7 linked regions of the Homo sapiens genome follow. The protein of the gene in region 6 purifies or fractionates together with the protein of the main gene of each other region. This does not show direct contact. Each region holds a gene or a part of one and is shown on either strand. Other genes may lie near its edges.

Region 1 (4,047 bases), on a different chromosome or scaffold from region 6:
AGGTCAGGAGTTCGAGACCAGCCTGGCTAACACGGCGAAACCCTGTCCCTACTAAAAATATAAAAATTAGCCAGGCGTGGTGGTGCATGCCTATAATCCCAGCTACTCGGGAGGCTGTGGCAGGAAAATCACTTGGACCCGGGAGGTGGAGGTTGCAGTGAGCCGAGATTGTGCCACTGCACTACAGCCTGGGCAATGGAGCAAGACTCTGTTGCAAAAAAAAATAAAAAAGTTTTTTTCTTCAGAGTAACCAACTAAACAGTTCAAAACGTCCAAACTTGTAGCCACTGAGTAGCTTTTTTTTTTTTTCTGACACAGAGTCTCACTCTGTCATCCAGGCTGGAGTGCAGTAAAATGATCTCGCCTCACTGCAACCTCCTCCTCCAGGGTTCAAGTGATTCTCCTACCTCAGCGTCCTCAGTAGCTGGGACTACAGGCTCACACCATGATGCCTGGCTAATTTTTGTACTTGTATTTATTTTTTATTTTTTTCCGAGACGGAGTCTTGCACTGTTGCCCAGGCTGGAGTGCAGTGGCGCAAGCTCAGCTCACTGCAACCTCCAACTCCCAGGTTCAAGTAATTCTCCTGCCTCAGCCCCATGAGTAGCTGGGATTACAGGCACGAGCCACCACGCCAGGCTATGGTTTTTTGTGTTTTTTTTTTTGTATTTGTATTTTTATTTTTTTGAGACGGAGTCTCGCTCTTTCACCCACGCCGGACTGCAGTGGCGCCATCTCGGCTCACTGCAAGCTCTGCCTCCCGGGTTCACGCCATTCTCCTGCCTCAGCCTCCCGAGTAGCTGGGACTACAGGCGCCCGCCACTGCGGCCGGCTAGTTTTTTGTATTTTTAGTAGAGATGGGGTTTCACCGTGTTAGCCAGGATGGTCTCGATCTCCTGACCTCATGATCCGCCCGCCTCAGCCTCCCAAAGTGCTGGGGTTACAGGTGTGAGCCACCACACCCGGCCTTTTTTTTTTGTATTTTTAGTAGAGACGGGGTTTTGCCATGTTGGCCGGGCTGGTCTCGAACTCCTGACCTCAGGTGATCCACCCACCTTGGCCTCCCAAATTGCTGGGATTACAGACGTGAGCCACTGCGCCCGGCCTCTGAAGAAACAACCTGAACTGCATTCCTCTGCTCTCATACCAGAATAATCAACAGAGAGGACTTCTGTGACCGATGTGTGGGGGTTTCTCCCCACGCACCAAACAAGCAATTAATTCTTCAGTGGATACCAGCTGGGCATCCTCCAATTCAATTCCAACCCTGTCTACCTGGAGACAGCCTCAGATCCCACAGGTTGAAGGCTTAGTCCCAACCAACCATTCTCCATTCCCACCCGTCACAAGTCTGGGCTCCAGAACTTCTGATCCACTGGCTTCAACTTGGGGTTGTCAACTTGAATTAACCTTTGTGTTCCATTAATTTGCTGGAGCAGATCACAGAAGTAAGGGAAACACTCACTTACATGTACTGGCTTATTATACAAAGGACACAGAGGAAGAGATGCATAGGGCAAGGCATGTGAGAAGGGGCACGGTGCCTCCATGCCCACCCTGGGTGCACCACCCTTCAGGAGGCTCCATGTGTTCAGGTATTTGGAAGCTCCCTGAACCCTGTCCTCTTGGGCCTTTTATGGAGACTCTACTGGAGAGACATGACTGAAGTATGGACAGCCCTGTTGAAATATTATCATCTAATGAGTGAGGAAACCCAGCAACGCCTCTGTGTTCACCTTCTTACCGTCCTCCGTGCAACATTCCTTCCTCCAGGGTATGTGATGGGACCCCTTTTGAAATGAGGGTCTTAGGACCCACAATTAGAAAAGCAAGTAGACGGCCGGGCGCGGTGGCTGGTGCCTGTAATCCCAGCACTTTAGGAGGCCGAGGCGGGCAGATCACGAGGTCAGGAGATCCAGACCATCCTGGCTAACACGGTGAAACCCCATCTCTACTAAAAAAAAAAAAAAAATACAAAAAATTAGGTGGGCGTGGTGGCGGGCGCCTGTAGTCCCAGCTACTCTGGAGGCTGAGGCAGAAGAATGGCGTGAACCCGGAAGGTGGAGCTTGCAGTGAGCTGAGATCACGCCACTGACTCCAGCCTGGGCGACAGAGCGAGACTCCGCCTCCAAAAAAAAAGAAAAGAAAAGCAAGTAGATAATTTATTTATGGACAGCTCCAAAACAGGCAGGAAAGATTCCTCCCTTGAAGAGAGAAAGGAACAGGTGAAAGGAGAGGAGAAGGTCAGTGATGGAAATTCTGTTTTCCAAGGCCTGCTCCTGAGGCCTAGAGTGCCCCAACATTATAACAGGGCTGTGGGAGTTATGAGACAGGAACTGTGTACACACACATGCATGCATGCACACACATCAATTACCATCAAAATGAGGTTGATGGTTTATTATTATTATTATTGTTATTTTGAGATGGAGTCTCGCTCTGTCGCCCAGGCTAGAGTGCAGTGGCGTGATCCCGGCTCACTGCAACCTCCGTCTTCCAGGTTCAAGCAATTATCTCGCCTCAGCCTCTCGAGTAGCTGGGATTACAGGCACCTGCCACCATACCCGGCTAATTTTTTGTATTTTTAGTAGAGATGGGGTTTCACCATGTTGGCCAGGCTGGTCTCGATCTCTTGACCTCAGGTGATCCACCCTCCTCGGCCTCCCAAAGTGCTGTGATTACAGGCGTAAGCCACCAGCCAAAAATTTTTTGTAGAGATGTGGTCTCACTGTGTTGCCCAGGCTGGTCCCGAACTGCTAGGCCCAAACAATCCTTCTGCCTCAGCCTCCCAAAGTGCTGGGGATTATACGCATGAGCCACCGAGGCTGGCCCCAACTTTCTCTTGTTCTTTGGACAGATCGAAGACCACCCAGTCTGCTTGAACTGCAATTTTTTCTTCCCAAATAAAACGTTGAATTTAGAGATTCGTCTCTACATTTTATTTTGACTTCAACACAGATACCACATGGTTATCTTCAGCAAGGATTGTTAGCTGGGAGTGGTGGCGCACATCTGTAGTCCCAGCTACTTGGGAGGCTGAGGTGGGGGGATCACCTCAGCCCAGGAGGTCAAGGCTGCAGTTAGCCGTGTTGCACCACGTGATTGCACCACTATACAGCCTGGGTGACAGAGCAAGACCCTGTCTCAAAAAAAACCCCAAAAACAAAAACCCAAGGATTCTTTATTCTTAAAACTATTGTTTCTTTTAACACATTAGTTATTTCTCACATAACCAAGCTAGGAATTCAAAGAAGCCAACGAGGCTTAACCTGGGGTCTTGTTCATCTGGCTGTCCAAATGGAAAGTGGAGGTGAAGAGTTATGGCCATTGACACCCATAGAATGGCCCATTGCTCCAGATTAGCCAGTTCAGTAACTTTTTTTTTTTTCTTTTGAGACAGAGTCTCGCTCTGTCGCCCAGGCTGGAGTGCAGTGGCGCGATCTCGGCTCATTGCAAGCTCCGCCTCCCAGGTTCGCACCATTCTCCTGCCTCAGCCTCCCGAGTAGCTGGGACTACAGGCGCCCGCCACCACGCCCAGATAATTTTTTTGTATTTTTAGTAGAGATGGGGTTTCACCGTGTTAGCCAGGATGGTCTGGATCTCCTGACCTCATGATCGGCCTGCCTCGGCCTCCCAAAGTGCTCGGATTACAGGCTTGAGCCACCACACCCGGCCGAAGTTCACAAGTTCAGTAACTTTATTTGGCAAATAAATATCTTTTTTTTTTTTTGAGACAGGGTCTCACTTTGTCTCCTAAGCTGGAGTGCAGTGGCGCAGTCACAGCTCACTGCTGCCTCAACCTCCTGGGCTTAAGTGATCCTCCCAACTCAGCCTCCTGAGTAGCTAGGACTACGGTGTGCACCAATACGCCTGGCTATTTTTTTTTCTTCCTTTTTGTAGAGATGGGGTTTTACCATGTTGCGCAGGCTGGAATAAGTACTTTCAAAGGGTCCTTTAATGACAAAACTATAGAGGTAGAGAACAGGTTAGAGGTTGCCAAGGAACAGGGAATGAGGGGTCTCTGAGGGACACGGGGATCTCAGTGAC
Region 2 (4,047 bases), on a different chromosome or scaffold from region 6:
AAATTTAAGTAATACTCTGGGAAGAACACATTTTTCTCTCCTACTATACCCTCCCAATAGGTCTGACACCAGATGAGAGTGTTTTCCACACTAAACAATTCTCCAATGGACACCAACGGAGTGTCCTATAATTCAATTCAGTTCTGTCACTATCTCCAGGTAGACAGTGTCTGATCCCACAGGTTAAGAGTTTAGTCTCATAAGCCTGGCCCCACTTCAGACACTAATCACAAGTCCCAGGTTGTGACCTATGATTCCGACTGAATGGTTAGCACAGGGTTCTTACCACCCTCTCTGTGGGTTCAATAATTTGCTAGAATGGCTCACAGAACTCTGGGAAACACTTTACTTACACTTAGTAGTTTATTACAAAGGACATTATGAATGATATAGAACAGCCAGGTGAAGAGACACACAGGGAAAGGTAGAGGGAGAAGGGGTGCAGAGCTGCCACGCCCTCTCTGGGTGCTACCCTCTTAACACTTCCATGTGCTCATCAACCTGGAAGCTCATCAGATTTCTAGTTCAAGAGTTTTTATAGGCCAGGCGCAGCAGCTCACACCTGTAATCCTAGCACTGTGGGAAGCTGAGATGGGAATATTGCTTGAGTCCAGGAGTTCGAGACCAGCCTGGGCAACATAGTAAGACTTCATTTCAAACACAAAAAAATTTAGCAAGGTGTGGTGGAAGGCGCCTGTGGTCCCAGCCACTTGGGACATTGATGTAGGAGGATTGCTTGAGCCCAGGAGGTTGAAGCCTCCAGTGAACTATGATCGCACCTCTGCACTCCAGCCTGGGCAACAGAGCGAGACTTGGCTCAAAACACAAGAAGAAAAAAGCTTTAATGGAGCTTAATCTCCAGCACTTGCCCTCCTCCTTTCCTGGATTTTGGTAGGTGGTGCCAAAAGTTCCAACCCTCTAAAACTCTAATCACTTAGTCTTTTTGGTGACTGGCCCCATCCTTCCTTAGGCTATAGATAGGCCAGATCCTAAAAGTTATCTCATTAGGATGAACTCAGGTGTTATCAAAAGGGGTACATTAAGAATAACAAAAAAATACACTACACTATCAGAAAATTCCAAGGGTTCTAGTGGCTCTGTAACAGGAACCAGGGACAAAGACCAAATAAATTTACTATACTACAAATACCCTGTTTAACATTGTCTAGCTTTCCAAAATTATGAATGATGCTGCAACACATCTATGTATATACATTTGTGTATATTTCTAATAATTTCCTTGAAATAAATGGCTACAAGAGAATCAGCGTTAATGCTGTCATGTCCAATATGGTACTTACTAGCCACATGTGACGATTTTAAAATTATTTATTTATTCATTTTGAGACAAGGTCTCACTCTGTTGCACAGGCTGGGGTGCAGTGGCGTGATCATGGCTCACTGCAGCCTTGACTTCCCAGGCTCCAGGGATCCTCCCACCTCAGCCTCCTGAGTGGTGGGGCTACAGGCTTGTGCCACACGTGATTATTTTTATTTTTAAAGGCTTTTTAAAAAATTTTAATTAAAAAAAAATTTTTTTTTTTTTGGAAAGACAGGGTCTCACTATGTTGCCCAGGCTGGTCTCAAACTCCTGGGCTCAAGTGATCCTCCAGCCTCAGCCTCCCAAGTGCTGGGATTATAGGAATGAGCCACTATGCCTGGCCCATGTGACTATTTATTTATTTTCTGAGACGGAGTTTTGCTCTTGTCTCCCAGGCTGGAGTGCAATGGCCCAATCTCGGCTCACTGCAACCTCGACCTCCTGGGTTCAAGCAATTCTCCTGCCTCATCCTCCTGAGTAGTTGCGATTACAGGAGCCCGCCACCAGGCCTGGCTAATTTTTTAATTTTTGGTAGAGATGGGGTTTCACTATGTTGGCCAGGCTGGTCTCGGGTCGAACTCCTGACCTTAGGTGATCTGCCTGCCTCAGCCTCCCAGAGTGCTGGGATTATAGGTGTGAGCCATCCCGTATGACTATTTAAATTAATTACAATAAAATTCAGTTCCTCAGCCGTAATAGCCACATTTCAAGTGCTCAATAGCCTGATGTAGTCAGCAGCTACCATACTGCATGGTGCAGGATGTAGAACATTCCTATCCTTGTAGAAGAGTCTATTGATAGCCCTATCTAAAGAAATGGTCACATAAAAATTTGGTATCTGCATCCCATGAAGTGACATAACAATTTAAATTCTCAATATTAGTATATGAGTTCCAACATCCTCTCCTTGTCAACATCAGATCAATATTCTGATCTGATAGATGAGACATAATGTTTTAGTTAGTATTTTTTTTTTTTTTTTTGAGACAGAGTCTTGCTCTGTCACCCAGGCTGGAGTGCAGAGGCCTGATCTCAGCTCACTATAACCTCCATCTCCCAGGTTCAAGCGATTCTCCTGCCGCAGCCTCCCAAGTAGCTGGGATTACAGGCGCACACCACCACGTCCAGTTAATTTTTGTATTTTTAGTAGAGATGGGGTTCCATCATGTTGGTCAGGCTGGTCTCGAATTCCTGACCTCATGATCCGCCCGCCTCAGCCTCCCAAAGTGCTAGGATTACAGGCATGAGCCACCACGCCCAGCCTGTACTTTTCATCATTATTAATGAGGCTGAGTCTTTTCACATTTTTTGGCCATTTTTTTTTTTTAGTCATTGTTGAACTATCTGAACTTTATTTTAAAAGATTCAAATATAACACTATCCTGTTTCTGATGAGCTATTAAAGCCAAACCATATATGTAGAAGACATTTCTTCAATCTGTTTCGCTGGCTTCTTGAAAATTTTGGAAAGATATTTATCAAAATAGCATACAAACACCTAATAAGAGTAGTACCACAGTTAGCTGAAGGCAATCTGCACTCTTATAGGTTGTTTCCTTAAAGTAGAGTCAGTGGCTTACATTTCTCTAAATAATAAGACTAGCACTGCAGTATGTTACTGTTATGAGATATTCTTACAAATTTTCAAATTAGCTATGAAAACACTTAGACTGATATATAAATGAATAGAAAATATTTATGTTTTAAACATGAATACTACTGTATGATTATGTTTATATGAATGTCTGGAACAGGAAAAAACCACCTATGGGACAGGAATCAGAAGAGTGGTTAACCAGAGACTGGCAGGGTTGGGAAAGGAATGACTGATAAAGCACACAAATGGAGTTTCTGACATGATGGAAATGTTCTCTATCTTGATAGAAACGTGAACTATGCAGGTGTATACAATTGTCAAACTCACTGCATTCTACACATGAGAACTGATATACAGTTTCACTAAATTATATCTCAATTTTTAAAAGGAGGAAAAAAGTGAAAAAAAGTATTGTTCTACTTAGAATATTAAACTTACAGGCAATAAAAATAATTATCCTCACTGGGTGTGGTGGTTCACGCCTGTAATCCCAGCACTTTGGGAGGCCAAAGTGGGAGGACTGCTTGAGCCCAGGAGTTGGAGACCAGCCTTGGCAACATGGTGAGACACTGTCTCTACCAAAAAACCCACAAAAATTAGCCAGGCAGGGTGGTGCAAGCCTGTTGTCCCAGGTGCTCAGGAGGCTGAGGTGGGAGGATCCACTTGAGCCCAGGAGGTTGAAACTGCAGTGAGCCGTGATCACATCACTGCACTCCAGCCTGGATGACACAGTGAGATCCTGTCTTAAAAAAAAAAAAAATCATAAAAGTATTTATAGAACTTAAAGTATGATTTTCTGGCCTAGGAGACACAAAAAAAGTTTTACTAAATTAGAGGTAGGGATCAGACTTTGTGACACCTTGAGCCAAACCATTCAACTGTCAAATCCAGAGGGCACTAGAAAATTAATATAATTTCAGGGCAAAATATATTAAGGTATCAGAAAAGCACTACTAACTTTTTAACATAGATGCATAATCAGTGTTTCTAAAAAGCCTGAAACCTGTTATAATGTTATGGAACAGTAGTTAATTTTTTTGAGCTGTATTTGCTGTGGTAGTTTATGAACTTGGCTCACTTTTGCCCTTTTTCCTCCTGTTCTGGTGGTGCACACTAGCACAAAAACGAA
Region 3 (4,047 bases), on a different chromosome or scaffold from region 6:
GAGGACAAGGTGGGTGGATCACCTGAGATCAGTTCGAGACCAGCCTGGCCAACATGGCGAAACCCCATCTCTACTAAAAATACAAAAATTAGCCAGGTGTGGTGGTGCACACCTGTAGTCCCAGCTACTCGGGAGGCCAAGGCAGGAGAATTGCTTGAACCTGGGAGGTGGGGGTTGTAGTGAACCAAGATTGTGCCACTGCACTCCAGCCTGGGCCACGGAGCGAGACTCCATCTCAAAAATAAATAAATAAAATAAAAATTATCTATATATAATATTCATTCATAGGGTTGTTGTAAGGATTGAGTTAAATGCAGTGGTGTCTGTAGCTGGATGGGACGCTCCCCGCACAGCCACATCATAGGTGTTAGGTAAATGTCAGCCGTTCTCCTCATCATTTGGTGGAGGGTAGCAGAGGGTCCCCTACTCTTGTCCCCTGCCAGAGCTACTGTGGCCAGTGCCGGCCTGTGGGATGGGTCATGAGCAGATAGGGCTGGGGGGGTGTGGAGCCACACACAGTATGGACATCCTGGGCCAGTCACTCGCCCAAGCCTGCCTGCTCTTCTGTAAGATGGAGAGAACACCAAGGCTCTGAACCATTTATTGCCACAGTCCAAGGTGACCAACGGTCCCAGTAGCTCCGGACTGAGGGGTTTCTTGGGATGTGGGACTTTCAGGGCTAAAGCCAGACAGAATTTGGCAAGTAGAATGGCGGGTCACCCGACACGGATCCTGTTGACTACACAAAATAAAATAAAATAAAATACATTGATTTAAGGAAAGCAATTATGCTGAAGTAAAGTAATCAAAACATGTTTTAAGTTTCCTGACTTGCTATATATGTGCTTCTTTATTAACACATCAAATAACAAGATCTGGTGATCTCAGTAGCTACCACAATTTCAAAGCAGCAATATGTGTAAATGATATTTTGAAATATTTGCAGCTACTGTCATGTGATAAGCAAATACTAGTAACAAAGTTGCAGGTCCTACCACTGCTACTTTGGTTTCTTGCCTACATCTCATTGAAAGAACTGCTCAATTTCAGTGAGAAGTGAGTGAAATTGAGGTGTAATGCTTTCCCATCCAAGGTCATAGGCTCCCTGAATTCTGTTGGCAGCCCCCGTGGGTCCCCAGGGACTGCAGGCTCGGAGCCCCCTAGTCCTGCATGTTGGCGTGGAGGTGGGGGTCAGGGGAACTGACGGGGGATTTTGATGCCTGATGCAGCAGGTATGGCACCACCCTCCTCTCTCCCACAGATGCCCCTGGGCAGTACGGAGCCTATTTCCACGATGATGGCTTCCTCGCCTTCCCTGGCCATGTCTTCTCCAGGAGGTGAGACTGGCATTGGAAGGGCCCATGGGCCTAATGGGGAGGATGGGAATCTGGGACTTCTGTCCCCTCACCCGCTCTTCCTCCGCAGCCTGCCCGAGGTGCCCGAGACCATCGAGCTGGAGGTTCGGACCAGCACAGCCAGTGGCCTCCTGCTCTGGCAGGGTGTGGTGAGTGTGGGTATCCGGCTGGGCTCTTGGGGCTCCTGGGGCAGGAAGCTGGCTTCCTGGTGGCCGGAGTGGTGGGGGGAGGGGAAAGCAGAGCCCCCTGGCCTCGGCAGCCTCTGCTCTCCAGGCTGGGGACCCCAGAGACCCTGTGCTTCCCTGGCAGGAGGTGGGAGAGGCCGGCCAAGGCAAGGACTTCATCAGCCTCGGGCTTCAAGACGGGCACCTTGTCTTCAGGTAGGTCCTGGCACCTGGCCCTTCCTCTCCCTTCCCTGGTCCCAGCACCCCACCCCCCGGTCCTGCCCCAGCTCATACTTCTTGGGCCTGGATGACTGCAGGTACCAGCTGGGTAGTGGGGAGGCCCGCCTGGTCTCTGAGGACCCCATCAATGACGGCGAGTGGCACCGGGTGACAGCACTGCGGTAAGGGACCCTGCCGGGCACTCGGGATGGGGCCCAGCGTTCTGGAGTGGGGCAGGACGCCCCCTACCATGGGCAGAGAGGCAGGTATTGAGCTCTGTGGAGACAGAACTTGAAGCCAGGGGAGGGGAGAACCCACCAGCCAGGGCTCGGGCTTCCATCTCGGACTGAACTCCGCTGGGGGCAGGCGAGTGCCCCAGGAGTGGGAGGAAACCTGGGTGCAGAAATGAGGAAGCTGTGTTTGTGGGGCCCGATCTCTCGTTCAGCGGGGGAAAGAAAGAGCTTGGGAAACAGGGACAGACTTCTGAGTCTGGAGTCTCGATATCAGAGGGAGGGGACTCTGTCGTGGGGCCGGGGAGGACCAGGAAGTTTGTGGAAAGGGGCCTGACCCAGTTCCACTGCAGGGAGGGCCGCAGAGGTTCCATCCAAGTCGACGGTGAGGAGCTGGTCAGCGGCCGGTCCCCAGGTCCCAACGTGGCAGTCAACGCCAAGGGCAGCGTCTACATCGGTAAGTCTGGGGCTCCTTCTCAGGGCAGGGGCAGGAACGGCACTCCCTTAGGGCTAGAGCTCGCCCAGCCTTCCTCGCCTCCTGGGCTGCTGGAGCCCACAGGCCCTGTCCTCTCACCTCCCGGCAGGCGGAGCCCCTGACGTGGCCACGCTGACCGGGGGCAGATTCTCCTCAGGCATCACAGGCTGTGTCAAGAACCTGGTGCTGCACTCGGCCCGACCCGGCGCCCCGCCCCCACAGCCCCTGGACCTGCAGCACCGCGCCCAGGCCGGGGCCAACACACGCCCCTGCCCCTCGTAGGCACCTGCCTGCCCCACACGGACTCCCGGGCCACGCCCCAGCCCGACAATGTCGAGTATATTATTATTAATATTATTATGAATTTTTGTAAGAAACCGAGGCGATGCCACGCTTTGCTGCTACCGCCCTGGGCTGGACTGGAGGTGGGCATGCCACCCTCACACACACAGCTGGGCAAAGCCACAAGGCTGGCCAGCAAGGCAGGTTGGATGGGAGTGGGCACCTCAGAAAGTCACCAGGACTTGGGGTCAGGAACAGTGGCTGGGTGGGCCCAGAACTGCCCCCACTGTCCCCCTACCCACCGATGGAGCCCCCAGATAGAGCTGGGTGGCCTGTTTCTGCAGCCCTTGGGCAGTTCTCACTCCTAGGAGAGCCAACCTCGGCTTGTGGGCTGGTGCCCCACAGCTACCTGAGACGGGCATCGCAGGAGTCTCTGCCACCCACTCAGGATTGGGAATTGTCTTTAGTGCCGGCTGTGGAGCAAAAGGCAGCTCACCCCTGGGCAGGCGGTCCCCATCCCCACCAGCTCGTTTTTCAGCACCCCCACCCACCTCCACCCAGCCCCTGGCACCTCCTCTGGCAGACTCCCCCTCCTACCACGTCCTCCTGGCCTGCATTCCCACCCCCTCCTGCCAGCACACAGCCTGGGGTCCCTCCCTCAGGGGCTGTAAGGGAAGGCCCACCCCAACTCTTACCAGGAGCTGCTACAGGCAGAGCCCAGCACTGATAGGGCCCCGCCCACCGGGCCCCGCCCACCCCAGGCCACATCCCCACCCATCTGGAAGTGAAGGCCCAGGGACTCCTCCAACAGACAACGGACGGACGGATGCCGCTGGTGCTCAGGAAGAGCTAGTGCCTTAGGTGGGGGAAGGCAGGACTCACGACTGAGAGAGAGAGGAGGGGGATATGACCACCCTGCCCCATCTGCAGGAGCCTGAAGATCCAGCTCAAGTGCCATCCTGCCAGTGGCCCCCAGACTGTGGGGTTGGGACGCCTGGCCTCTGTGTCCTAGAAGGGACCCTCCTGTGGTCTTTGTCTTGATTTTTCTTAATAAACGGTGCTATCCCCGCCAGGGGCCTCCTGAGTCTTTGATGAGGGCTTCACTCAGTGGAGCCTGTGGATGGGGCAGAGCAGGGCAGGTGAGATCTGGGGGTGAAGCAAGCTGGCTTGGGATCAGCGAGGCCCCCAGGCCCCCAACCCTGTGAGGCAGGAATTGTCCTATTTTCTAGAGGGGCAGCTGAGTCTCAGAGGGTTAGGGGGCCTGTCCAACATCAGACAGAGAGCCAGGGGGTTAGAACCCAAAGAGTCTGACCCCAGAGCCT
Region 4 (4,047 bases), on a different chromosome or scaffold from region 6:
CAGTGGTGAAGAAAGCAAATGTGAGCCCTACCCTCTTGGAGCTTATAGTCTAGAGCCTTAGAAATCAATTTTTAAGGTTAATTTACTTTATATTTTTAATTAAAAAGGAGTATGTGTGCCTTGCACAAAGATACAAATATTTTCTAAATGTATAAAATAAAAATTGAAAGTTACCCCCCATTCTTAACTCCCGCTAGTTCATTTAAAAAACAAAACCAAAAACTTAATCCCCCTCAACAAGAAAACTATCAGTTGTCTTCATAACTATATTAAAATTTTAAATTTCTTCAACATAATTAAATTTTTTGACCAGGCATGGTGGCTCACGTCTGTAATCCAAGCACTTTGGGAGGCCGAGGCGGGGGGATCAATTGAGGCCAGGAGTTCAAGACCAACCTGGCCAACATAGTGAAACCCCATCTCTACTAAAAATACACAGATTAGCCAGGCATGGTGGCAGGCACCTGTAGTCCCAGCTACTTGGGAGGCTGAGGCACGAGAATCACTTGAACCTGAGAGGCAGAGGTTGCAGTGAGCCGAGATTGTGCCACTGCACTCCAGCCTGGGTGCCAGAGCGAGACTCCATCTCAAAAAAAAAAAAAAATTACTGTAATCATAATGGTCACCCAAAACAATTCATTTTAATTAAATCACTGGTCTGAAGTTTAAGATACTGTGATGAAATATTGATTACTCTTTCTTAGAATGCTGAAGCTGCATCTCACCCTTCTCCAGCCAAGTGTACATGCACATACTCTTCCTCACTGCAGTCTCTATACCTCTCACTCTCACACAAATGGAAGAAGAATGTGGGTTTCATGTATATGCAATTGTTTATTTACCTGTTTGACTTTGTAATGTGTTTTAATTCTGCAGAAGAACCCTGTCGTAGTTTTGTAGGCTTTTCATAAATCCCTAGGCAAAGAAGGAAAGCTTCTGACCTTTTTTTCCCTTTCATAGGAAGACATACTGGGAAGAAAATGTTAGTGTTTTAGTATACTGTATTCATGACTTGACTTTGATGTGGAAGTCGATACTGATCAAGAGCTTAAGGATTGTATAAATCATTAAAGCTGTGGTCTTGCCACATGGAGGTTGATGGAAAATATTTTTGTCCTGAGTTTTATTTGCTGACTTTTTCTGTTACATGATGGGTGAAGTTGTTGAACAAACTAATATGAGGGCTTTAGCAAATCATTTTGCAGTTCAGAGCTTTCAGTTAAGTTATAATGTAAATTTTAAAATGCTGTTAAAAATCTGAAAAGGTGAAGCTCTATTATAAAATTGGTAGGCCAGATTTCAGAGTTTACAAAAACATTTCATACTTGGAATCACTCACTGGCCAAATTGGGTAGAGTGTTAAGGAAAAGAAATAACAGGTAAATAGAAATCAATATTATTTTCAATCATGTAAAGTTGTGAGGATTTGATGAATAACATATAAATTGCTTAATACAGTGCTCAATAAAATATACTGTCTCCCTTCTCCCCTTTACCCTTCTACTGTTAACTACTTTTATCACTAGGGAGAAACTAATTAGTTTAAAACAAAACATTAGATCTAGCAAATAGTAGAGGAACTTAGCCAGATGGTTAAGAGCTTGGGCATGTAAATCAGATATGGGTTTAAGTCCTGGTCTTGTCACTTACGTGTGTTCTTGGGAAAGTTGCTTAACTTCTTTGAGCCTCAGTTACCTTATTAGTAAAATTAGATGATAGTAGTGTCTACTTGATAGTGTTGTTTTAAGGATTATATGATATAATGAATGTAAAATGATTCCCACCATATCTATCACATAGTGTTTAGTAAATGTTACCTATTCATAGTAGAAGCACTTTAATAGGATTGATGTAAGGATTAAAATAATCCATATAAAATATTTAGTGGAGTACACAAGGTAAATTCTTGAGAAATATTAGCTACTACTATTAATATTAATGTATCTTAAAGCAATAATAAAATATTAAAAACTGAAGAGTAAGACCAGCTTATTGTATAAATATCTTGTTGGGGCAGGAGTAAAGGTATTAAAGATTATATAAAAGGAATGAAATCATAGCAATCACTACTTCTAAAACTTATAGAAGTCAGAATTTGCCTTTAATGATTTAATAAAAATTCCATGTACTTTTCTTTTGCTGAAGTTACAGTTGAGGAGGTATGTGAGATTGATTGATATATACATTCTTGTAACAAACTTTTGCAGATGTTCATTGAGCAAAACAAGCTAAAGAGACAAAGCCACCTTCTGCTGCAGAGCTCCATCCCTGATCAGCAGCTTTTGAAAGCTTTAGACGAAAATGCAAAACTCACCCAGCAACTTGAAGAAGAGAGAATTCAGCATCAACAAAAGGTAACCCATTTTCTTCTGGAATCTTAGGTACACACACACATACATGCATACACACATATATTTAAGATGAAGGGAGCCAGTGCAGTCAGTCCAGTCATTTACTGTTTCATATTTTGCCTTAGTTACTAAGTGCTTTCAACCACCTTTTAGAAAAAAATAACTAAATGAACTTAATGTTGTGAAACTGAAATTTGTAATACGCTATTATAGACTTTATAATAATCTTTAAACTGTCCAAAGGGTCGGAAGAAGCAAGGGAAAGAGGTATAACTTAAAAACAGCTTGGATAAGGCAAAGTCTGGAAATTCAATTTTTGGAAATGTTATATTTTTTGGAGACTGCACACACTAAGAGGCTGTATTCAACTCAGAGCACTTGTTGGAGGGCATAGGTTTTATTCAAAGAAAATGACAGTCCGTATTAGTAGTAATTGTTTGCTTAGAGAAAATTTTTGATTTTGTAAACTTGCACAAATGTGTATGTTTAAAGACTTCCTAAGTGATTATTTCAATTTGATGAGTGGAGCTATTCCAGCTGACACAGCCTACCTCTGTGTGCCAAGAAGAAAGGATAGTCATTGTGGTAGGTGAGAGGAGAAGCAAAGAAGTGGAACAAAGACTTCCAAATTAAAGAGACCACTTAAGAAAAATTACATCAATGTTTATACTACTTATAATGTACCTCATTTGGGAAGGAAAGGCTGTTAGCTGCTACTTGTTACCACCTGTCAAAGCCTCTGTGGCAACAGTATTGACATTTAATCCTTGGAAGTTCTGAAGTTTTTACAAACTTGGTGGTGAGGTTGAGTTGATTTGTTTTGCCTCAATAAGAAATGTTGATATATGGTGGCTGGTAAGATGGCCGAATACGAACAGCTCCGGTCTGCAGCTCCGAGCGGGATCAACGCAGAAGGCGGGTGATTTCTGCATTGGGTACCCGGCTCATCTCACTGGAACTGGTTGGACAGTGAGTGCAGCCCATGAAGGGTGAGCTGAAGCAAGGTGGGGTGTTGCCTCACCCGGGAAGTGCAGGGGATTGGAGAACTCCCTCTCCTAGCCAAGGGAAGCCACGAGAGACTGTGCTGTGAGGAATGGTGCTCTCCAGCCCAGATACTACGCTTTTCCCACCATCTTTGCAACCCACAGACCAGGAGATTGCCTTGGGTGCCTACACCACCAGGGCCCTGGGATTCAAGCACAAAACTGGGTGGCCATTTGGGCAGACACCAAACTAGCTGCAGGAGTGTTTCTTCATACTCCAGTGGCACCTGGAACTCCAACAACACAGAACCATTCACTCCCCTGGAAAGGGGGCAGAAGCCAGGGAGCCAAGTGGTCTAGCCCAGCAGATCCCACCCCCACGGAGCCCAGCAAGCCAAGATCCACTGGCTTGAAATTGTCGCTGCCAGCACAGCAGTCTGAGGTCAACCTGGGACACTCGAGCTTGGTGGGGGGCAGGGTGTCTGCTATTACTGAGGCTTGAGTAGGCAGTTTTCCCCTCACAGTGTAAACAAAGCCACCAGGAAGTTCGGACTGGGCCGAGCCCACTGCAGCTCCGCCAAGCTGCTGTAGCTAGACTGCCTCTCTAGATTCCTCCTCTCTGGGCAAAGCATCTCTGAAAGAGAGGCAGCAGCCCCAGTCAGGGGCTTGTAGATAAAACTCCCATCTCCCTGGGACAGAGAACCTAGGGAAAG
Region 5 (4,047 bases), on a different chromosome or scaffold from region 6:
GACATGGGCCCGCGGAACACGGTGGCCACGGTCAGGTAGCGGCCATGGCGCGGATCGCAGGCGGCCATCATGTTCCTGGCGTCGAACATCTGCTGGGTGAGCTCGGGCACGGTCAGGGCCCGGTACTGCTGGCTGCCGCGGCTGGTGAGCGGCGCGAAGCCAGGCATGAAGAAGTGCAGGCGCGGGAAGGGCACCATGTTCACCGCCAGCTTGCGCAGGTCAGCATTGAGCTGGCCCGGGAAGCGCAGCGAGGTGGTGACCCCACTCATGGTGGCGGACACCAGGTGGTTGAGGTCCCCGTAGGTGGGCGTTGTCAGCTTCAGAGTGCGGAAGCAGATGTCATAGAGCGCCTCGTTGTCGATGCAGTAGGTCTCGTCTGTATTCTCCACCAGCTGGTGCACCGACAGTGTGGCATTGTAGGGCTCCACCACCGTGTCCGACACCTTGGGCGAGGGCATGACGCTGAAGGTGTTCATGATGCGGTCCGGGAACTCCTCACGGATCTTGCTGATGAGCAGCGTGCCCATGCCTGAGCCCGTGCCGCCGCCCAGCGAGTGCGTGAGCTGGAAGCCCTGCAGGCAGTCGCAGTGCTCGCACTCCTTCCGCACCACGTCCAGCACTGCGTCCACCAGCTCCGCGCCCTCCGTGTAGTGCCCTTTCGCCCAGTTGTTCCCTGCACCCGTCTGGCCTGCAACAAAGAGAGTCCCGTGCCGTTTAAACAGGAAAGGGCTGCGCCATCACCATGCTTGGTCACCGACAAGGAGGGTGTGAAGTGATTCCATGATGTGCTGTTAGCCAAAGGGAGGGGCCGGGGAAACAGGCACCCACCAACGGTGCAGCTGAGCAGATGCACTGGTACGTTTTTAGGCAAGTCAAAGTAGCTACTGGTCAATTTTAAAGATGTATATACATTTTGACCTGGTTGTTCCATGTTAAAGAGGTAATTCTTGCACATGGTAGAATTCAAAGGGAACAAAAGGTATACATTAAAAAAATAAGTTACTGGCCGGGCGCCGTGGCTCATGCCTGTAATCCCAGCACTTTGGGAGGCCGAGGCGGGTGGATCACTTGAAGTCAGGAGTTAGAGACCAGCCTGGGCAACATGAGGAAACCCCATCTCTACTGAAAATACAAAAATCAGCCGGGCGTGGTGGTGGGGAGCCTGTAGTCCCAGCTACTTGGGAGGCTGAGGCAGGAGAATTGCTTGAACCTGGGACCTGGGAGGTGGAGGTTCTAGTGTGCTGAGATGGTGCCACTGCACTCCAGCTTGGGCGTCAGAATGGGACTACAGCTCAAAAAAAAAAAAAAAGTTCTCTCCTTTGGGCTTTCTGAATCTTATACTGTACTATGTATAAGTATTTTCTTTTCTTTCTTTCTTTTTTTTGGAGACGCAGTCTCACTCTGTCGCCCAGGCTGGAGTGCAGTGGCGCAATCTCGGCTCATTGCAAGCTCCGCCTCCTGGGTTCACGCCATTCTCCTGCCTCAGCCTCCCGTGTAGCCGGGACTACAGGCGCCTGCCACCACTCCTGGCTAATATTTTTGTATTTTTAGTAGAGACGGGGTTTCACCGTGTTAGCCAGGATAGTCTCGAACTCCTGACCTTGTGATCCGCCCGCCTCGGCCTCCCAAAGTGCTGGGATTACAGGCGTGAGCCACGGCGCCCGGCCCAAGTATTTTATTTTTAAAACTTGACACTTTTTCATGTTAATGGAGCCCCTCATTCATCATCCAGAATTACTGTTGCAAAATGTTTGCAGAACCAATTATTTATTCTGCCCCTATAATTAAATACTAAGCACAGGAAGTAATTCCTGCCCTCAAATTGTTTCCAGGCCAGTTGAGAAAAGGAGCTTAATATGTCTGAAAGACTTCTGTATTTTATGCAGAGTTCAAGTAACAAGAAAGAGACCTAGTCTGTTTTCTGCATAATGGTGCTTTTTTTTTTTGAGACGGAGTCTTGCTCTGCCACCCAGGCTGGAGGTGCAGTGGTGCGATCTCGGCTCACTGCAAGCTCCGCCTCCCGGGTTCACACCATTCTCCTGCCTCAGCCTCCCAAGTAGCTGTGACTACAGGCACCCACCACCACGCCTGGCTAATTTTTTGTATTTTTTAGTAGAGATGGGGTTTCACCATGTTAGCCAGGATGGTCTCAATCTCCTGACTTCGTGATCCACCCACTTCGGCCTCCCAAAGTGCTGGGATTACAGGTGTGAGCCACCGGGCCAGCCCCATAATGGTGCATTTTTGCCAGACAGGCTTATGTATATCTTACTTTACCTAAAAAAAATTGAATCTGAAAGATTGGCTCTTAAATTTAAAATCCTATTTTTCATTTTATCTCATTTTAAAATGGATTATTTCACTAGCAGAAGCATTTTTTTCCCAGCTGTAAAAATTACACAGGTTTGTATGTCCATATGAACAGATGCACGTAGGAGTGGGAGGAACTAATTTTTGTTTTTGGTTTTCTGGGCACTACGAGTTTCATATAATGCAATGGCTTTCATACATTGCTGTGAACATCTGTATTTATTTATTTAGAGACAAGGTCTCGCTCTGTCACCCAGGGTGGCGTACACTGGCACCACCCTAGCTGACTGCAGCTTTGAACTCCTGGGCTTAAGTGATTCTCCCACTTCAACCTCTTGAGTAGCAGGGACTACAGGCACATGCCACTACACTTGGCTAATGAACATTTGAAAAAACTAGATACTAGATACCTCTCATTTATTTTAAAGTTAACATCTATTATTTTTCATAAGTCAAATAGTTGCATATGATATAATTTTAATTTCTGGAAACAATATAATCACTTTAAAAAACTCTTCTTCTGTTAAATGTATTGATAGAATATATTAAAAATCAGAAATAATTCCAATCAGTTGAAGTTGATTCTTTTTAATTTCCTGTGATTACAAAGTATTAAATGTTATCTATCTACCTATCTATATCTATTTTTTTCCTATTAATTCATTTATCCAAGGGTGAATATTAAATACTGCCAGAAAGGGCCAAGGCTTGGGATCAATTCTATTCCTCTTAATTTTTACATATATGAGAAATCTTGTCCACAGATATATGTAAATGGGAATGAATTATGTTCTACAATGTCATTCAGTTCTTTGATTGTCTTCAGAGTTACATCCCAAAAATCAAATAGTGAGCTATTATCAAAAAGTATTTTCAAGCCTGGGCAACATGGCAAAACCCCATCTCTACTAAAAATACAAAAATTAGCTGGGTCTGGTAGTGCATGCCTGTAGTCCCAGCTACTCGGGAGGCTGAGGTGGGAGGATCACTTAAGCGTAGAAGATGGAGGTTGCAGTGAGCCAAGATTGTGCTACAGCACTCCAGCCTGGGTGACAGAGCAAGACCCTGTCTCAAAAAAAAAAAAAAAAGTATTTTCAATCATCTGTCACTTAACTCAATTTTGTTTATTTATTTATTTATTTATTTTGAGATGGAGTCTCACTCTGTTGCCCAGGCTAAAGTGCAGTGGCACGGTATTGTCTCACTGCAACCTCCACCTCCTGGGTTCAAGCAATTCTGCTTCAGCCCCCCGAGAAGCTGGGATTACAGGTGCTGCCACCACACCCGGCTAATTTTTGTATTTTTTAGTAGAGAGAGGGTTTCACCACGTTGGCCAGGCTGGTCTTGAACTCCTGACCTCAAGTGATCCGCCCACCTCGGCCTCCCAAAGTGCTGGGATTACAGGCATGAGCCACCGCACCTGGCCAACAACTCAATGTTGAAGAAAGCAGAATTGGAAACGACCTAACTTGCAGGTCATGACATTTTACATCAGTCATTCTTTTCTTGTTTCTGAATGTAAACCAAAAAGGCTTAACCAAGACTTACTAAATACACTCTCACTCTTTCACTTTAAGGCAATTTATTCCAGTATACTTAGAGTTGGGAAAATTGAAATACTAATTTCTAATATGACTTTGTCAATTTAATTTTTAATAAAATGTTTTAAATATTTATTTTCATGAAATTTTGGGCTGCAGATTTAACTAATTCAAGTCATAAAAACTTGCATTGCAT
Region 6 (4,047 bases):
TCCCACCCAGCCCTCTGCAGAGCACTGATGTCTAGCCCCTGTGACTCTACTTAACACAAGATAGGAGGTCCTGCCTCCCCTCCCACCCAGCCCTCTGCAGAGCACTGATGTCTAGCCCCTGTGGCTCTACTTAACACAGGATAAGAGGTCCTGCCTCCCCTCCCACCCAGCCCTCTGCAGAGCACTGATGTCTAGCCCCTGTGACTCTACTTAACACAGGATAGGAGGTCCTGCCTCCCCTCCCACCCAGCCCTCTGCAGAGCACTGATGTCTAGCCCCTGTGGCTCTACTTAACACAGGACCCTCGTGGCTTCCAGTTCTTTATTAACTCATGTTTCAACTCCCATACCGTCTAAAATCTTGAAAACACAAGGGCTCTAAAACGCTTACACAGCTTATAGAGTGGTCTCAATTCTTCCCACTACCAGTGTGACATTTTTAAGACTTATGCCTTCATTTCTAAAATGCCACCTGCAAACACACAGGATAGGGTTCCTAACTCTGCCTATTAAATGATTAAATAAATCGAGGTATGTCCATTCTACAGGACACCATATATATTTTAAAACAAAAAAGGGCCAGGTGTGGTGGCTCATGCCTGTAATCCCAACACTTTGGACGGCCAGTGTGGGAGGACAGCTTGAGGCCAGGAGTTTGAGACCAGCCTGGACAACATATTGAGACCCTGTCGCCATAAATTTTTTTTTTAATGTAGCCAGGCATGGTGGCACTTGCCTGTAGTCCTAGCTACTTAGGAGGCTGAGGTGGGAGGATCACTTGAGCCTACGAGTTTGCGGTTTCTGAGAGCTATCATCACACTGCTGCACTCCAGCCTGCACAACAGAGCAAGACCCTGTCTCTAACAAAAATAAAATTTAAAAGTAAAAAATAAAAATAGGCATTTGAGCTGACATAGCAGAATGCCCATGGTATATTGTGGAGTGGAAAAATAGAATTCACAGAACAATTTGTATGGTAAAGTTCAAGTTCCATTTGCATGATTAAATATATGACTCTGTATATTTGCATATGCCCAGTTAAGAGTCTGTTAGGATACAAAGCAAGCAGTGAACAGTGGCTACCCTGGTGACTCTGCCCACCTGCAAGTCTTTGCTAAGAGTATGTTACTGTTTGTTTCTTTGTTTCTTTGTTTGTTTTTTGAGGCAGAGTTTTGCTGTCACCCCGGCTGGAGTGCAGTGGCACGATCTCAGCTCACTGCAACTTCCGCCTCCCAGGTTCAAGTGATCTCCCGCCTCAGCTTCCAGAGTAGCTGGGATTACAGGTGCACGCCACTACGCCCGGGTAATTTTTGTATTTTTAGTAGAGACAGGGTTTCACCATGTTGGCCAGGCTGGTCTCGAACTCCTGACCTCAGGTGATCTGCCCGCCTTGGCCTCCTGAAGTGCTGGGATTACAGGCGTGAGCCACCACACCCAGCCTAAGAGTATATCACTGTTATAAATTTTTTAAAGCAATACAAAATAGTCCCTGTGCACCAGGGCTTAGAAAAGGACACCAGAAAGTCCCCTGGAAAACTCTCCCTGGCTGTTCTAAGACTCCAGCTCTGCAGATGAGGTTCTGAAGTTGATGTTATGGCACAGTTTTCTCAGGAATCGGTGAATGTAGCCACTGAGTTGAGCACTTTTCCCAGAGGAAAGCTCCCAAAACTGGCTCCACTACACACCCCTCTGTGAATTCCAGGATTCCAGGCATCCCCATCCCACTGGGAGAAGGTAGTCTGGGACCAGTGAAGCCTTCCAAACAGGCCCACAAACTTAATTTGCATGCTCCCATTCTTTTATTTATTTATTATTATTATTATTTTTGAGATGGAGTTTTGCTCTTATTGCCCAGGCTGGAGTGCAATGGCACAATCTTGGCTCACTGCAACTTCTGCCCCCTGGATTCAAGTGATTCTCCTGCTTCAGCCTCCCGAGTAGCTTGGATTACAGGCATGTGCCACCATGCCTGGCTAATTTTTGTATTTTTAGTAGAGACGGGGTTTGTCCATGTTGGTCAGGGTGGTCTCGAACTCCCGACCTCAGGTGATCCACCTGCCTCGACCTCCCAAAGTGCTGGGATTACAGACATGAGCCACTGCGCCTGGCCTGTTCTCATTCTTTTAACAGGTGGCCTAAGATTAATGGTCTATTTGTTTTGTATTTTTATTAGTTACTTCACCTCATACTGCAGCTAAAACAAACGTATGCTTGTGTATTCAGTTAGTCATGGTAAGTAAAAAATATTTTGTGCAGTCAGAAGGGAAGTTTAGGGATCTTTTTCTCTATGCACTAATTGGGGTTAGTGTGTTCTACTGAAGGGTTAAAGAGAACAGCAGTGTGTTCTTTATTCCACTCTAGTTCATCACTCAGGGCTACGGAGCAACGATTTGAAGGCAGTTTTATCCAGCACAATTAAATCAAAGTTCCCAGGGCCTATGGTCATTAGACTCTGTGGGGAAAAAAAAAAAAAGGCGTCTTTTCAAAAGTGAGGCCTTTTCAAGAACTCTACTATGTGATACAAAGTTCTGAAGGGCTCCAGGTACCCCATCAGCCTCACATCACGGACTGGGGAGGGGATTTTGCACACATCTTGATGTCTCCATTTGCAGCTTGTTCTCATTGGGTGAGCAATGATTTTCTAACCTTGCATGGTTTTTGTTTTGTTTTTGTTTTTGTTTTTGTTTTTGTTTTCAGACAGTCTCACTCTGTCACCCAGGCTGGAGTGCACTGGCGTGATTTCGGCTCACTGCAACCTCTGCCTCCCAGGTTCAAGGGATTCTCCTGCCTCAGCCTCCTGAGTAGCTGGGACTACAGGCACCCGCCACCATGCCTGGCTAATTCTTGTATTTTTAGTAGAGACGGGGTTTCACCATGTTGGTCTGGCTGGTCTCGATTTCCTGACCTTGTGATCCACTCGCCTCGGCCTCCCAAAGTGCTGGGATTACAGGTGTGAGCCACCGCACCCGGCCGTGTTCATTCCTTTTTAAAAAAATGCTCTTCAAGGTAACCCTTGAAGAAGGTACCAGAGAGTGACTGTCTGCCCTGCCCCAAGCTGTACCCTGATCGCAACTTGCTGGCCTACAGGCTGTGGGACAGTTCAGGAACAGCACTCTTTCCCTGCCCCCTCCCACCTTCTCACTTCTGAAATGGGTGATGGTCTTGGGCTCCTCTGAAAGCCTCCTCTAGCTGCAAGGCAGGCCCTGGCCCCATCTCCAAACAGGTAAGGACAGCCTCCTGTACCTCTACCTGCCATGTGCAGCCTGACATCTCGGCCCCTTCCCCCGGAGGCCAGCACTTGAGGTCCCCAGCTGCACCCTCACCGCTCAGCCTGCCCAGTTCTTGTGTCCCAGTTGGCCAGTGACCACTGGTGCTTCCCCAGAGGTAAGACAGGCGAGTGGGAGGTAAGACTCAGCCCCACTCCCATCCCTACCATGCATTTTAGAAACATTTCAACCAAGGTAAAAGACAGTAGGGTTTAGAGGTGACCAGGAGAGTGCATCCCAGAACACTCCCCTGAGGAAAGTGGGAGACACAATGTGAGGAGCTGCTGCTCTGCATCGTGTGACCAAGCAGAAACCCAGCAGAATTTTCACCAGAATTCTAACATTGAAAAAAATTCCGGCGGTGGCTCACGCCTGTAATCCCAACACTCTGGGAGGCCGAGGCAGGTGGATCACCTGAGGTCAGGAGTTTGAGAGCAGCCTGGCCAACATGGTGGAACCCCGTCTCTACTAAAAATACGAAAAGTAGCCAGGCATGGTGGCAGGCGTCTGTACTCCCAGCTACTCGGGAGGCTGAGACAGAATTGCTTGAACCCGGGAGGCGGAGGTTGCAGCGAGCTGAGATCACGCCACTGCACTCCAGCCTGGGCAACAGAGCAAGATTCTGTCAAAAAAAAAAAAAATTCTTTCCTTTCCATAGTAAATTATGTAGAAGACATTTTCCCTAAGCAGCACCTGGAGGAGGGGAAGCTCTGACAAAATCCTGGCCCAGATGGAACCACTAACTGCACCAGCCTGAGCCCCCTCTTTCCTACGCTCCTTTA
Region 7 (4,047 bases), on a different chromosome or scaffold from region 6:
GATGGAACAATAAAAATGGAATTCCAAGGCCCAAACCCCATCTAGATCTAATGACTCAATCACTGACTTCGAACCTGTCTACCCAACTCCCAATTATATTCCCCTAGATGCTTCTGAGGCATGAAAGATGTACTAAAAAAATTTCTGGAAAAGTAATCTGCCCATCTCCACAGTTCTAAAAAGTCATATGTAATCCCTAAAGCAAGAAATGGTATAGCAGGTCTTAATAAATGGCCCTATCAGAGCTATAGGAGGACCTTTTATATATATCTAATTTTTATTTATTTGTTTGCTTATTTATTTGAGACAGGGTCTTGCTCTGTCACCCAGGCTAGAGTGCAGTGGTGTGATCATAGCTCACTGTAACCTCAAATTCCTGGGCTGTTCAAGCAGTCCTCTTGCCTTAAGCCTCCTGTGTAGCTGGGACCAAAGGTGCACACCACCACATGTGGCTAATTTTTATTTTTATTTATTTTTTATTTTTGAGATGGAGTTTCGTTCTTGTTGCCCAGGCTTGAGTGCAATGGTGCCATCTCAACTCACCGCAACCTCTGCCTCCCGGGTTCAAGCAATTCTCCTGCCTCAGCCTCCTGAGTAGCTGGGATTACAGGCATGCGCCACCACGCCCGGCTAATTTTGTATTTTTAGTAGAGACGGGGTTCTCCCTGTTGGTCAGGCTGGTCTTGAACTCTGGACCTCAGGTGATCCACCCGCCTCAGCCTCCCAAAGTGCTGGGATTACAGGGATGAGTCACCGCGCCCGGCCTCATGGCTAATTTTTAAATTTGTTGTAGAGATAATGTCTCACTATGTTGCTCCGGTTGGTCTTTAATTCCTGAGCTGAAGCGATCCTTTTGCCTTGGCCTCCCAAAGTGCTGGGATTACAGGCCGGAGCCACCGTGCCTGGCCAAGGATCTTTCTCAAATGAGAAATGCCTGCAGGCAGCTTTCCTTCCCCCTCAATATACTTAAAGAGCCTCCCCAATCCAAGTGACACATAGAGAGATGGGCAGATAAGATGTTAACAGATACATTAGACAAAGCATGCAGCCTGTTCTGGCCTTGGCTTAACCCAAGATTTCATTGCCCTCCTTTCCTCATTCCTTCTGGCCCATTTCCAATTATTTTCTTATTCCAATGATTCTTCAAGTATGATTCCTGGAGCAGTAGCATCAGTATCTCCAGAAATGGAAATTTTTAGAGCCCATCCCAGTTCCACTGAATCAGAAACTCTAGGGGTGGGCCCAGCTACCTGTGTTTTAACAAGTCCTTCAGGTGATTAGAATGCATGCTCAAGTTTGGGAATCACTGTCCTAACCATTAAATTGTACATTAGCCTTAGGGTAAGAGCTGCCAGTTATTAAGACATCCATAGAGATGAGATAAACTACAAATGAGGCCCCCGTCTCAAAGACCCTCCAAAAGTCAGGGCAGAGAAAGGGAGCTTCTTCTCCCAGGCCAGCTGGTCTGGCCTAAGCCCTAAGCTGCTGCCCTAAGCCCTCTATATCGCAGGAGACAACAGGTGGGCTAGGGCTATGGATACTTAGCCAGGCAGGTGCCTTGAGCCTACTAGGACAAAAAAGCAATAGACAAGGCAGAACCCCAGTCTTCCACACATACTCTGACTTGAGGAAGCGAGCAGTTTTGATGATCTGTTTGGTAGCTTCAACATAGCCGTTCTCACCGAAGTGCATCAAGGCAGCCCAACAGGCTGCGCTAATGCCACCAGGCCGTGAGCCTGCGATGGTTGGGGAAGCATAGATGCCACCCTGCCAATCTGTATCGACGAAGAACTGATAGTTCCTGTACTTCTTGTCACTATACAACACCAATGATGAGCCTTTTGGGGCATAGCCATACTGTGGAAGAAGTAGCAGACAAGAAAAGTGAGAGTATAGTTCTGTCTGGCAGACCTTGTCCCAGAACTCTCATCATGCAAAGGAAATCCTATTTATTTCTCAGTTTCTCTGTTATGTTTCCCACTCACATTAAGGATTCAAACTTAAAATGCTAAAGGATAGTAGGAACTTAAGGGATGGAGTTTAAATTCTCTCTGTTAGGAATGAGGAATCTGAGACCCAGGGAAGAACAGCGCCCAGTTAATCGGTTTACTCCCTCTCTTGCCCAGCATGTGGTTTACCTTATTTAAAATATTTCTCTGGAGACCATATGTCAGGATGAAAGCAAGGGTAAGTTTGCAATGGAAGCCAGGAAAGGATGGAATTTGTCACTTCAAGTTAAAATCACCATCTGACCCCCTTCCCATCTTTTTTTGCTTAGTATTACTAAGAATATTATGCTTATGAGAACATAATGGTGCTCAGAAACTAAAAGCTACTTAATCCAGCTTTAAAATTAACTATGTAACTGGTTTCCTTATAGAACATCTGACCCCCTAATTAACTCTTATTAAAACTAACGTGGAACTAATTTCATTACCTGAACCATCCAGAAATGGATGGTTATGGGAAAAGGACACAGGAGCTATCTGGATGGTAAGGAAAAAACAGATGCTGACTGAAAATCGGCTGCAGATCACACCGATTTTGAAAAACAAGTCTTTAATATACTTGAGTTTAAAACAAGCTCTGAAAATGCAATCAAAACAAGGTACACATTCCTGAGGCTGCTAATACTTCTTCCACATCTGGATGTATATTCAATAGCGTTATCAACTGATCTAGACTTTGTCTCAGTCCACCAAGGGTGGCAGGCGTGGCCATCTCAAATGCTGAATGTTCCTGAGCACACAGGTTCTTCCCATTTTCCAAAGGACTCTTCCGTCAACATTTTCCCGTCATGTACGCTCAGGAGCCCAGTTGCACAGCAGCTCTAATGTTATCTACCAGCATGGGAACTCCACTACCAACCCTCACACTCCTCTACCCTCCACCTCAAATCAGCTCAAGGCTTCAGGGAGCTTTTTTAACAAGGGCCACTACACTAGCATGTTCTAGTTACACACAGTCAGTGGATACAGAAATTCTCTTAGCCAATTTGAGATAAAGGTAACAGGTTCATTTTCACTACTGCTTGTCACCTCTACCACTATACCCCATCACCTGAACCAGCTGATCTGGTGACGGCAAAGAGAGAGTTTAAAACAAGCATCTGATGAGAATTCTATAGTTAATTTTATACTTTGCGGGGAAGCTACCAATTTATTTTATCAATAATAGTCAAAATAATCAACTGGTAACACTTGATCTCCTCCTTAGCTCACCTTATGGGTGTCAGCTGAAATGCTGGTTACACCTTTCACCCGGAAATCAAATGGGTGCTCCAGTGGGTATCCTGCTTTCTCCATAAAGACGATGAGGAAGCCTCCCAGACAAGCGTCGACATGAAGGGGTATTTTGTATTTGACAGCCAGCTTGTTCCAAAAAACAAAGAACATAAGAGAATTTCCTTTATAGCCCTATAATAAAAACTGCAAGACATGGGTGGAAAGATGGGCTATAAACACAAGGCTATTTTGTATTATGCCTCCCATGTTTTTAAAAAATGGCTATTTTTAACATTCCCAACAAAATTTATCTTTCAAATGTATTTTCCCTTCAAAATAATTCATCTGAAATATGGTATCAATTTTATATTTAAATATGCATGACCTCAAACGCTCTGCGGTATCAAGCAGGAAATGAGTAGAGCTCTGATTTAGGCTGCCTCTCGCACAAGGGAAAGGTCCTGCCTCAGTCACTGCAGGATGAGGCGTGAGGGAAAGGGAGGCGCTGAGGGGCAGCATGTGGAATATCACCCTTTTGGTGGGCACATTCCTACATGCAGATTATTTCCAGATCTCAATCTAGAAGGCAATCCTATTTCAGAATTTCCAGTTTAAAAGGCCTCAGCCTTGTACTATCTTCCCCCACAGCAGAGACTAGCAACTTTTAAAGGCTTGCAACTGAGCTGCAGGGCTTCCCCTAGGGCTGATGAGAGCTACTTATCACTACTGTGGTCAAAAACAAAAAAAAAATCGCTTCTATTTGCCAAGTACTGCCCCATTAGGCTTTGTTTTAAAATATCCATTTGCCTGCCTTAGCAGCCCA

What was found.
Region 1: the proteins of PSAT1 (region 6) and TALDO1 fractionate together in Homo sapiens (co-fractionation; one large-scale study listed by BioGRID). This does not show direct contact.
Region 2: the proteins of PSAT1 (region 6) and TTC1 fractionate together in Homo sapiens (co-fractionation; one large-scale study listed by BioGRID). This does not show direct contact.
Region 3: the proteins of PSAT1 (region 6) and HSPG2 fractionate together in Homo sapiens (co-fractionation; one large-scale study listed by BioGRID). This does not show direct contact.
Region 4: the proteins of PSAT1 (region 6) and SHTN1 fractionate together in Homo sapiens (co-fractionation; one large-scale study listed by BioGRID). This does not show direct contact.
Region 5: the proteins of PSAT1 (region 6) and TUBB6 fractionate together in Homo sapiens (co-fractionation; one large-scale study listed by BioGRID). This does not show direct contact.
Region 7: the proteins of PSAT1 (region 6) and SGPL1 fractionate together in Homo sapiens (co-fractionation; one large-scale study listed by BioGRID). This does not show direct contact.

What each region holds. Positions count from the first base shown.
Region 1 is NC_000011.10:750,171-754,217, reverse strand, and holds part of TALDO1 (transaldolase), read right to left. Parts: intron 1-4,047. UniProt on the Homo sapiens protein: Catalyzes the rate-limiting step of the non-oxidative phase in the pentose phosphate pathway. Catalyzes the reversible conversion of sedheptulose-7-phosphate and D-glyceraldehyde 3-phosphate into erythrose-4-phosphate and beta-D-fructose 6-phosphate.
Region 2 is NC_000005.10:160,012,000-160,016,046, reverse strand, and holds part of TTC1 (tetratricopeptide repeat protein 1), read right to left. Parts: intron 1,389-4,047; exon of another isoform or gene 1-1,388.
Region 3 is NC_000001.11:21,821,994-21,826,040, reverse strand, and holds the end of HSPG2 (basement membrane-specific heparan sulfate proteoglycan core protein isoform b precursor), read left to right. Parts: intron 1-815; exon of another isoform or gene 816-1,261; coding exon 1,262-1,337; exon of another isoform or gene 1,338-1,425; coding exon 1,426-1,504; exon of another isoform or gene 1,505-1,664; coding exon 1,665-1,735; exon of another isoform or gene 1,736-1,836; coding exon 1,837-1,920; exon of another isoform or gene 1,921-2,321; coding exon 2,322-2,425; exon of another isoform or gene 2,426-2,552; coding exon 2,553-2,725; 3' UTR 2,726-3,797; downstream 3,798-4,047. Other genes in the region: LDLRAD2 (low-density lipoprotein receptor class A domain-containing protein 2 precursor), read right to left, coding at 3,826-3,839. UniProt on the Homo sapiens protein: Integral component of basement membranes. Component of the glomerular basement membrane (GBM), responsible for the fixed negative electrostatic membrane charge, and which provides a barrier which is both size- and charge-selective.
Region 4 is NC_000010.11:116,938,773-116,942,819, reverse strand, and holds part of SHTN1 (shootin-1), read left to right. Parts: intron 1-2,207; coding exon 2,208-2,354; intron 2,355-4,047. UniProt on the Homo sapiens protein: Involved in the generation of internal asymmetric signals required for neuronal polarization and neurite outgrowth.
Region 5 is NC_000018.10:12,321,708-12,325,754, reverse strand, and holds part of TUBB6 (tubulin beta-6 chain), read right to left. Parts: intron 947-4,047; exon of another isoform or gene 689-946; coding exon 1-688. UniProt on the Homo sapiens protein: Tubulin is the major constituent of microtubules, a cylinder consisting of laterally associated linear protofilaments composed of alpha- and beta-tubulin heterodimers.
Region 6 is NC_000009.12:78,310,476-78,314,522, reverse strand, and holds part of PSAT1 (phosphoserine aminotransferase), read right to left. Parts: intron 1-4,047. UniProt on the Homo sapiens protein: Involved in L-serine biosynthesis via the phosphorylated pathway, a three-step pathway converting the glycolytic intermediate 3-phospho-D-glycerate into L-serine.
Region 7 is NC_000010.11:70,871,161-70,875,207, reverse strand, and holds part of SGPL1 (sphingosine-1-phosphate lyase 1), read right to left. Parts: intron 3,372-4,047; coding exon 3,222-3,371; intron 1,858-3,221; coding exon 1,619-1,857; intron 1-1,618. UniProt on the Homo sapiens protein: Cleaves phosphorylated sphingoid bases (PSBs), such as sphingosine-1-phosphate, into fatty aldehydes and phosphoethanolamine. Elevates stress-induced ceramide production and apoptosis.